Linked DNA regions of Homo sapiens. The protein of the gene in region 1 purifies or fractionates together with the protein of each later gene. This does not show direct contact. Each region holds a gene or a part of one and is shown on either strand. Other genes may lie near its edges. The genes, in order: OSBPL10, NIPSNAP2 and DPP3.

Region 1 (3,654 bases):
CAGTCTTGTCCACAAAGCTGGGCTCTCGTTGATTCCACTGCCACTTCTCATTTCTTTGATATTGTTTCCCTTGGTTTGTCATGTGTGCACAAGTCAAAACAGACTGCTCCCTGGCTGGAGATGTTATGAATTTGCTTAACAGTGGTTGCAGCCTTTACCTTTCTTTTCAGCTTTTCCGTGTAATCCCAGGGATTGTCTGACTTTGTGTCCTTCCAAATGCAGGTGGTGCTTCCCACCTTTATCCTGGAGAAGCGATCTTTGCTGGAGATGTATGCAGATTTCATGGCGCACCCAGACCTACTGCTGGCCATCACCGCTGGGGCCACACCAGAGGAGAGAGTCATTTGCTTCGTTGAGTATTATCTCACAGCCTTTCACGAGGGCCGCAAGGGCGCTTTAGCCAAGAAGCCCTACAACCCCATCATAGGCGAGACATTTCACTGCTCCTGGGAAGTTCCCAAGGACAGGGTCAAGCCTAAGAGGACTGCTTCCCGCTCTCCTGCCAGCTGTCACGAACACCCAATGGCCGATGACCCTTCCAAAAGCTACAAACTAAGGTTTGTGGCTGAGCAAGTGTCCCATCACCCACCCATCTCCTGCTTCTACTGTGAGTGCGAGGAGAAGAGACTGTGCGTCAACACTCATGTATGGACCAAAAGCAAGTTCATGGGCATGTCCGTGGGGGTCTCTATGATAGGGGAAGGTAAGCCATGTCGTATGTTGGAGTTTGGCTCTTACACAGTGACGTTTCTATACCTGGTAGATGATTGATAATTTTGTGTGTGGAGTTTTTTGTTGTTGTTGTTTTTAACTGGTTTTGGAATTAGAGTGTGGGTGGTAAAAGGGTCAGGTTTTGTTGTTTGGGAACAAGGTCTGGTAATTTCCCAGCGGGGCCAAGGTAACGGACTATCTGCCTGACAGCCGCCCACCTGGACCTTCCCACCTGGACCTTCCCATGCTGTGCACGCGCGTGCGTGCACACCTTACAGGTACTGTTTTCTTTCAGCTTTGCATGAATATAAGAGTTGGCCTCCAAATCTGTGAAAACACATTTTTATTCATTCTCACCGGTGTTCTGGCTCACAGACAATGAGGATAATCATGCTGCCTATTCAAAATCTGCTCGTAAAAATTCCCAAAACAAATCTTTTGACTCTATGCTGGAAATTCTGAAGCAAGAACATAGTATAATCACGCCACTGGTGGATCACACATTCTTATTTTAGCAAATAGCTGTGAATGAAGTTTATTCATTGTTTGAAGAAACCTATAATAATCCTTGTTAAATTCAAGCATCTGTGTTACTGGTTCTTCAACTTTTTTTTGAGTCACAAATCTCTTCAAGGCTCTAAGGCTGTGATTCTCTTCCTAGAAAAAAGGAATCTAACTCCAAATTTGTCTTTGAGTTTCAGGGAGTACATGGCTCCTTAGAAGCCCTTCCAAAACCCCATGAGATAAGAGCACCTTTCATTCACTTAGCACATTTTTATTGAGCACCTACTAGATGCTTGGCATTGCCTTAGGAGCTGTGGTTACTTGAGCAAACAAAACAGACCAAAAAAGATCTGTTCTGATGATGCTTCTGTTCTCCTTCTTTCTCACGGGGAAATGAAATAAATAAGTAAATAAAATGGATTGTGTGGTAAGTTGAAGAATGGTAAGTGTTGTAGAGAAACAAAGCAGGTGGGGGTCCGGGGAAGACCAGGGAGAGGGCAGTTGAGCTTTCAGATGAGCTGGCCAGTGGGAAGGCCTCACTAAGGTGATATTTGAGCAAAGACCCAAAGCGGGCAAAGAGGGGTAAGGCAAGCCTTATAGGTCACTGGGAAAGAGTTTGTGTGCAGAAAGAATGAGGCAGAGGCCTACAGGTAAAATGTCCCTGGCACGGGGATGGAGACAGGAAGCCCATGTGGCTGGAGCAGGGTGAACAGGGGCAGGTGGAGGTCAGGGAGGTGATGGTGGCCAGATCACATAGGACCTCATGGGCTATTGCTAGGGACACTGGCTCTTACAGTGAGGGAGCCCTGAAGCCACTGGTGCTTTTGAGCTGGAGAGTACCAGGCTCAATCTCATAGTTCAGCAAGACTGCTCCAGCCGTTTGTTGAAAACAGACCCTGGGCGGGGGTAATGGTGGAAACAAGGAGACTAGGGAGGAGGTTGTGAGAATAACTAAGCAGGTGATGATGGTGGCTTGGACCAGGTGGAAAATAGTGGAGGAAGTAAATGTAGTGGAGTAGTAAGGATCTGGATAGGTTCTAAAGTTAGAGCCAAGAGGATCTGCCTCTGGATGGGATGTGGAGTGTGAGAGAAAGTGTTGCCAAGGTTTTGACCTGAGCACCTAGAAGGATGGACTAGCTGTTAAAACTGAGATGGGGAGACTTGAGGGCTGGGTATTGGGCTACTTTGAAGGAAGAGTATGGGAGCTCAGGGCGGTTGTTAGGGTTTAGTCATTGAAGGGAGTGCTAAAGTAGGCAATTGTGTATGCAAGCTGGAGTTTCATAGGGAGGGTCCTGGCTGAGATAAAATATTTAAGGCCTTGAGACTAATGAGACTGCTGAGTGAGCACTGATTTCTGAAGCATTAAGCAGCATTAAGAGGTCTGCAAGATGAACAGCCAGCCGAGGAGACTGATGAGGGGTGGCCAGAGAAGTAGACTGAATGGAATGGGAGAAGGTGCTCCTTGCGAGGCAAGTGAAGAAGGGCTTCAAAGTGCGAGAGTGATCAACTGCATCACATGATGCTGGTTACTCCAGTAAGATGAGAACTGAGAAGGGATCATGGATTTTGGATCATGGAGGTCATTCGTCACCTTGACAGCAGTTGTCAGTGGAGTAGCACTAGTGAAAATCTGACTAGAATAAAGTCAAGAGAGAAGGAAGGAGAGGAATTAGGGACTGTAAATGTGGACAGTTCCTCCTTATTTAGGGTTTGCATGCAATGGTACTGTTTTGGAAAATAGCCACTCTTGGGTTCCACTTCTCTGTTAGGTTTACACCCCAAAGCGCTGCTCCCCCTCTTGCATAGGTAAGATGGCAACTCCAGAGTGCCCACAGGTGTACTCAGCATTCGTGTTGGGCCTTCACTGGGGTCTTCCTTGCATGCAGGTCTAGTAATCAGCAGCTCATGCTGCACTCGTCACACCTTCCTCTCAAGGATCAATCAGGATCAAGAAGTTCACCAATGAGACATTCATTAATTTGTGTAGGAAGCTAGGGACACACCTGTCACCAGGATGATCTTGGGTCACCCAGTTTAGGCCTTTTCCACAATTCAGATGGAGGTGGGTTGTATCTGTGGGGGAAAGATGTAAAAATACATCTATCTTTAGATAAACCTCATCAATAATGAGTATTATCCTCCTCTTAGGTTATCTTCTGTAAGAGTGCAGTATTACAACTATTTTCCAATTAGAAAAATCCCAATTCATGACTGGGTTGTCTGGCTTTTCCTGCTGTTGACAAGGGGAGATGGATGCCTGAAGTGGTCTCTCTTCTTAAAGAGGAGTTGTTACCAGTGATGACTGGACCATGAAATCTTGTAGCTGAAAGGGCATTTGTCCACCATATGCTCCAGGGTTTCCAGCTGTGCTGTAGAGAATCCCAGGCTCCTTAGAGGGGCACAGGAAGTGAGTGGCAAGGTTGGTGTTCTTCCAAGTCC
Region 2 (3,654 bases), on another chromosome or scaffold:
GTAGAGATGGGGTTTCACCGTGTTAGCCAGGATGGTCTCGATCTCCTGACCTCATGATCCGCCTGCCTCGGCCTCCCAAAGTGCTGGGATTACAGGCGTGAGCCACTGCGCCCAGCCTTCTACAATAGTATTTCTAATCTGCTTGGTAGACTTGCTTAAGCACCCAGATACCACCAGGTAAACATTAAGAGGAAAAGAAAGAGCAACTCCAGGTATTAAAAAGGGGGACCAGGAATTTAAACAAGGGACAAGAAAAACTCTCATGAGAGCAAATTCCCCAGTACTTCATGAAATGAACACATGGATTTCATACTACAATAATAGAAATTCCTATTCTTATGCAGCAACGGTATTTTAGAAGTAGGGCTCTAAATTTCACATGATACTGGCAGCCTTTTTCTTTCTTTCTTTCTTTCTTTTTTTTTGCTTAAAAAATCAGTTTGCTGCTTTATTTATTTATTTTTGAGGCAGGGTCTCATTGCACTTGCTGGAGTGCAGTAGTGCAATCTCGGCTCACTGCAACCTCTGCCTCCCAGGTTCCAGCAATTCTCCCACCTCAGCCTCCTGACTATCTGGGACTACAGGTGCATGCCACCACATCCGGCTAATCTTTGTATTTTTAGTAGGGACAGGGTTTCATCATGTTGGCCAGGTTGGTCTCGAATTCCTGGCCTTAAGTGATCCGCCAGCCTCAGCCTCCCAGAGTGCTGAGATTGCAAGGGTGAGCTGCCGCACTCAGCCTAGTTTGCTGCTTTCTTGAACAAACATTACAGAGCAATCTTCTCCCCAATATGATGTTCTTTTAATTTAAAAACCAATTCATAGGATATTGTCTCAAATAGGTAGAAACCAGATATAAAGATTTTTGAATGATGTGAACTTACAAATACAAATATATTGGCCGGGAGTGGTGGCTCACGCTTCTAAATCCCAGCTCTCTGGGAGGCCGAGGCAGGTGGATCACCTGAGGTCAGGAGTTCAAGACCAGCCTGGCCAACATGGTGAAATCTTGTCTCTACTAACACTACAAAAAAAAAAAAAAATAGCTGGGTGTGGTGGCACACGCCTGTGATCCCAGCTACTCAGGAGGCTGAGGTAGGAGAATCGCTTGAACCCAGGAGGTGGAGATTGCAGTGAGCCAAGTCGTGCCACTGCACTCCAGCCTGGGCTACACAGCAAGACTCAATCTCAAAAAAAGTAATAATAATAAAATAAAATAAAATAAATTAAAAATAAAATGTGCTCTATAAATAATTATAAAGAAATATAAAAGCACGTTTTCACATCCTTCAAAGATTAAAAAGAAGCAAACTCACTTTAAACAAGCAAAATAACAATACCAGTAAATGCAATTTTTCTTGAAAGATAAAAACATATAGTATTAAGTGGCATTTGCAGATGTAAGTTGAAGATGCTTCCAATTTGTGTTTACTATATATAAAAATTCCTAAAAATTAAGAAAGCATTAATGGTGGTTTCCCTGAGAAAATGGTTTAAAGGGATAGAGGGGAAAGACACACAGCTTTCTCCATATAATGTCTATATTGTGCTTTTCTCTTCTGTATTTTTTTTTTCTTTGAGACAGGGTCTCACTTTGTCACTCAGGCTGGAGTGCAGTGGCGTGATCTTGGCTCACTGTAGCCTCGACCTCCCGGGTTCAAGCTATCCTCCTGTCTCAACCCCTCCCAAGTAGCTGGGACTACAGGTGCCCAGCACCACATCCAACTAATTTTTGTATTTTTTTGTAGAGACAGGGTTTCACCATGCTGCCCAGGTTGGTCTTGAATTTCTGAGCTCAAGTGACCTGCCTGCCTCAGCTTCCCAAAGTCCTGGGATTATAGGCGTGAACCACCACACCCAGCCATATTCCAATAAAAATGAAAGCACATTTTGTCAATTAGTTTGAAGTGTTTTACGTACACTACATTTAGGGATATCTGTTTAATAATATCATGGGCTGGGCACAGTGGCTCATGCTTGTAATCCCAGCACTTTGGGAGGCCAAGGAGGCGGGTGGATCACCTGAGGTCGGGAAACCAGACTGACCAACATGCAGAAACCCCGTCTCTACTAAAAATATAAAATTAGCCAGGCATGGTGGCGCATGCCTGTAATCCCAGCTACTCAGGAGGCTGAGGCAGGAGAATCGCTTGAACCCGGGAGGTGCAGGGTGTAGTGGGCCGAGATCACGCCACTACACTCCAGCCTGGGCAACAAGAGTGAAACTCTGTCTCAAAAAAAAAAAAAAAGAAAAAGAAAAAAGAAACTTACGCATTACTTTAAGGCAACCATATAAAATTAGTGATACACAAAGTAGAAAGTTTTAAGATTTGTTTATGGGACTATGTAATTTCTGTATGTTCTTTTTTTTTTTTGAGACAGAGTCTTGCTCTGTTGCCCAGGCTGGAGGGCAATAGTGGCACAATCTCAGCTCACTGCAACCTCCGCCTCCTGGGTTCAAGTGATTCTCCTGCCTCAGCCTCCTAAGCAGTTGAGACTAGCGGCACCCACCACCACACCCATCTAATTTTTGTATTTTTAGTAGAGGTGGGTTTTCACCATGTTGGCCAGGCTGGTCTTGAACCCCTGACCTCAGGTGATCCACCTGCCTCGGCCTCCCAAAGTGCTGGAATTATAGGTGTGAGCCACTGTGCCCAGCCAATTTCTGTGTTTATTTTAGATTTTAAGTTCATTAAACAGAAATTGTGTCTACAATTTTTTTTGTTAAATAAATTGTAAAAGCTTAGGAATAACAATTATGAACAATTAAGAAAGGGATATAATAAAAAGTGTCTAAAAATACTGACTAGGGAGTTTCACTTAAAATAAGAAATACTAAAGCAATGACTACTAATAGTTTTATGTATATCCTTCCAGAAATACAGAGGCAAACATATATTATGTATATTTATAGACAGATAATATTTTCACTGATAAAGGATGCCTTTGAAATAAAAATCACCCCAACTGAGCATTTATTTCATATCTCAGAAACACCAAAGTCAGCCTGGGCAGCATAGGAAGACCCTGTCTCTACAAAAAAAAATAAAAAGAGTAGCTGGGCATGGTGGCTCGTGCTTATGGTCCTAGCTACCCAGGAACCTGAGGCAGGAGGATCGCTTGAGCCCACAAGTTCAATGCTGTAGTGAGCTATGATCATGCACTGTACTCCAGCCCGGGCAACAGAGCAAGACCACCTCTAAAACAAACAAACAAATAATAATACCAAAGGGATTCCCCTTTGGGTGGGTACAATGAGGTAAGGGATGTGACAATGCTAGTAATCGAAAAATGCAGAGCAGGGGGTGAGACTAAATCAACACAGCACACACAAAAGAACCTGAGTGGCATTTGCTTGTGAACTTGGGCAGCAATCGTCTTGACAAATGAAAAACAAGCCGGCCAGTACTACCCCCAACCGTCAAACTGAAATCTTTGAGTGTCAGGTGACCAAAGCTGCCTAACATGCCCAACCTATCTAGTCATTCGAGTCGCAGCTATGCCAACGGCTGCCCAAATGATAAGATCTGGCTTGGGCCTGGGTTCTTAACTGACAGTGACAATCGCCAAGATGGTAGGGGGCACTTTCCAGAGGATAAGGAAGGGTGCACTATACAAAACACTAGACTTGAAATCAAGTCAGCATTCTATGCC
Region 3 (3,016 bases), on another chromosome or scaffold:
CACAAGGTCAGGAGATCGAGACCGTCCTGGCTAACACGGTGAAACCCCGTCTCTACTAAAAATACAAAAAATTAGCCAGGCATGGTTGCAGGCGCCTGTAGTCCCAGCTACTCAGGAGACTGAGGCAGGAGAATGACCTGAACCCGGGAGGCGGAGCTTGCAGTGAGCCAAGATTGCGTCACTGCACTCCAGCCTGGGTGACAGAGCGAGACTCCATCTAAAAAAAAAAATAATAATAATAATCATCATCATAATCATACAAGGGAAGTGTTAATGAGTGGCCAAAACATATAAACAGAACTCTGAACACTTAGAGGAGGGAAGATCGCATCCATCTTCAAGAGTATCCGGGAACGTTCTGGGGAGGAAGGGGTGGTTCCCACTAGATCTGAAGAACAGGTTGGATTTTCAAAGGTTGTGATGGTGGTGCACTGTAAAAAGTTTTTTTTTTTTTTTTTGAGGTGGAGTCTCACTCTGTCCCGCAGGCAGTGGTGAGATCTCGGCTCACTGCAACCTCCACCTCCGGAGTCAAATGATTCTCCGGCCTCAGCCTCCCAAAAAGCTGGGATTAGAGGCACCCACCACCATGCCCAGCTAATTTTGTATTTTTAGTAGAGATGGGGTTTCACCATGTTGGCCAGGCTAATCTCGAACTCCTGACCTCAAGTGATCCACCCGCCTCAGCCTCCCAAAGTGCTGGCATTACAGGTGTGAGCCACCACACCCAGCCAGGTCGCTGTAAAAGCTTTCTATGGCTTAACTCCTAACAACCCAGAGAGAAATGGTTATTATCCTCATTTTTCATCTGGAAAATGAGGCACAGAGGGGCTGTGTATTTGCCTGCGGTCACAAAGCTGTTGGGTGGCAGAGCCAGAACTTGAACTCCAGAGCTTGTGCTCTTTGCTGCTGTGCAGCTTGTGATGTCATGGAACACGACAAGGTGCACAGAGAGGGTAGAGCAGTTGAAGTGTGTTTGAGGGCAGTGCTTCCCGGGGGTATTCAGGGGACCCTCAGAACAGCCCATTTAATAAATCAGTAAACAGGTTCGGAGATAATGATGCCATGGTGGCTAGCATTTGTTGAGCACCCCCTCGATGTGTGACTATGTCATCACTGCAGCTCCTTTACAGATGAGGAGACTGAAGCTTGGGAGGTTGCAACACTTGCCCCAGGTCCCACAGTAGACAGATGAAGTCGTTGCTGAATTGTGAGCTTCAGGACACCAAGGACTGTATCTGTTTCACCTAGTGTGGCACCTGGTGTCTTTTATTATTTATTTATTTATTTATTTATTTTGAGGTGGAATCTCACTGTCACCCAGGCTGGAGTGCAGTGGCACGATCTCTGCTCACCGCAACCTCTGCCACCCGGGTTCAAGCAATTCTCCAGCCTCAGCCTCCCGAGTAGCTGGGACTACAGGCTCATGCCACCACGCCCAGCTAATTTTTTTGTATGTTTAGTATAAACAGTGTTTCATCATGTTGGCCAAGCTGGTCTCAAACTCCTGACCTCAGGTGATCCTCCCACCTCAGCCTACCAAGGTGCTAGGATTACAGGCATGAGCCACCATGCCCAGCCTAAATCTTTATTTGATTGACTGAATGAACGAAAGCAGCAATGCATTTAATACTCCCCCTGTAGTATTTCCTTCCTCACAGGGTTACTGTAAAGAGTAAATTAAGTAATTAACCTAAAACGTAGAGCACAGGTTTTTTTGGCAGAGCTCAGTAAGAAACAGCTGCTGCTGTAATTGTGATTATTAAGATTTTTATGATGATTCAGTTTCCCTATTCAGACCTTTCCCTGCTGTTTTCTCTCCATCTCCTCCCCAGGCTCAGACGTGCAGCTTCTGGAATACGAGGCGTCAGCTGCTGGCCTCATCCGATCCTTCTCTGAGCGTTTCCCAGAGGATGGACCCGAGTTGGAGGAGATCCTCACACAGCTGGCCACAGCCGATGCCCGATTCTGGAAGGGCCCCAGTGAGGCCCCATCTGGCCAAGCTTGAGGAAGATGTGTGGCCTTGCCCCCAATTCCATCAGACCAAGGCTGCAAGTGGCCCTCCATTCGTGTGTGTATTTAGGGGCTGGGGAGGGGGAGGGGCAGGAGCTTGGACCTTGGTACTACCTCAGCTGAGGGTGGTGACACAACCCCTTCCATTTGTCAGCACTTTCCAGCCTGCCAATTGCTTCCCCTCTGTGATCTCATTTCATCTGCACTGCCATACGTGGAGTGAGCAAGACAGGGCTTACCATCCTGTCTACCAGATGAGGAAATGGCAGTTCTGAGAAGTCACTGGTCTAGATCCCGCAGGTGGCACGTGACAGCTAGGGTTCAAAACGTTCTCACCAAATCCAATGCTCCTCACATATTAATTTTATAACCAGACAAATAAATATTAGAGACAACCACCATCTTTGCGGCGTGTGTGGCTCCTCCTTGCCTTTGCCTGTCTTCTCATTTACTCCCAGCAGAGTGATGGGCTCAAGGCCTGGGGAGGGGGCAAGGAGGGCCATTTTTAGCCTCCCTTCCACAACAGGATGTTGACATTATCTCTAGATGAGGATACGCAGTCACAGAGCTGAACATAGCACAATTTTTGCAGCTCTCCTTTGTGGCATTCCTTGCATTTTTAAATGTTCTGGGGCCGGGCACGGTGGCTCATGCCTGTAATCCCAGCACTTTGGGAGGCCGAGGCGAGGGGATCACGAGGTCAGGAGTTCGAGACCGGCTTGGCCAATATGGTGAAACCTCGTCTCTACTAAAAAATAAAGTAGCTGGGCATGGTGGCATGCGCCTGTAATCCCAGCTACTCGGGAGGCTGAGGCAGGAGAATCCCTGGAACCCGGGAGGCGGAGGTTGCGGTGAGCCGAAATCGCGCTACTGCGCTCCAGCGCAAGCGACAGAGCGAGACTACGTCTCAAAAAAAAAAAAAAAAAAAAAAAGTTCTGGGAACCTACAAACTCAACTTCAGTCAGAATCCTCTGCATTTGTCCCATAACCCTCGTGTTTTGTTTCT

What was found.
Region 2: the proteins of OSBPL10 (region 1) and NIPSNAP2 purify together in Homo sapiens (affinity purification with mass spectrometry; one large-scale study listed by BioGRID and IntAct). This does not show direct contact.
Region 3: the proteins of OSBPL10 (region 1) and DPP3 purify together in Homo sapiens (co-immunoprecipitation; one large-scale study listed by IntAct). This does not show direct contact.

What each region holds. Positions count from the first base shown.
Region 1 is NC_000003.12:31,680,683-31,684,336, reverse strand, and holds part of OSBPL10 (oxysterol-binding protein-related protein 10), read left to right. Parts: intron 1-222; coding exon 223-703; intron 704-3,654. UniProt on the Homo sapiens protein: Probable lipid transporter involved in lipid countertransport between the endoplasmic reticulum and the plasma membrane.
Region 2 is NC_000007.14:55,971,030-55,974,683, reverse strand, and holds part of NIPSNAP2 (protein NipSnap homolog 2), read right to left. Parts: intron 1-3,654. UniProt on the Homo sapiens protein: Protein involved in mitophagy by facilitating recruitment of the autophagy machinery required for clearance of damaged mitochondria.
Region 3 is NC_000011.10:66,507,247-66,510,262, forward strand, and holds the end of DPP3 (dipeptidyl peptidase 3), read left to right. Parts: intron 1-1,832; coding exon 1,833-2,005; 3' UTR 2,006-2,411; downstream 2,412-3,016. UniProt on the Homo sapiens protein: Cleaves and degrades bioactive peptides, including angiotensin, Leu-enkephalin and Met-enkephalin. Also cleaves Arg-Arg-beta-naphthylamide (in vitro).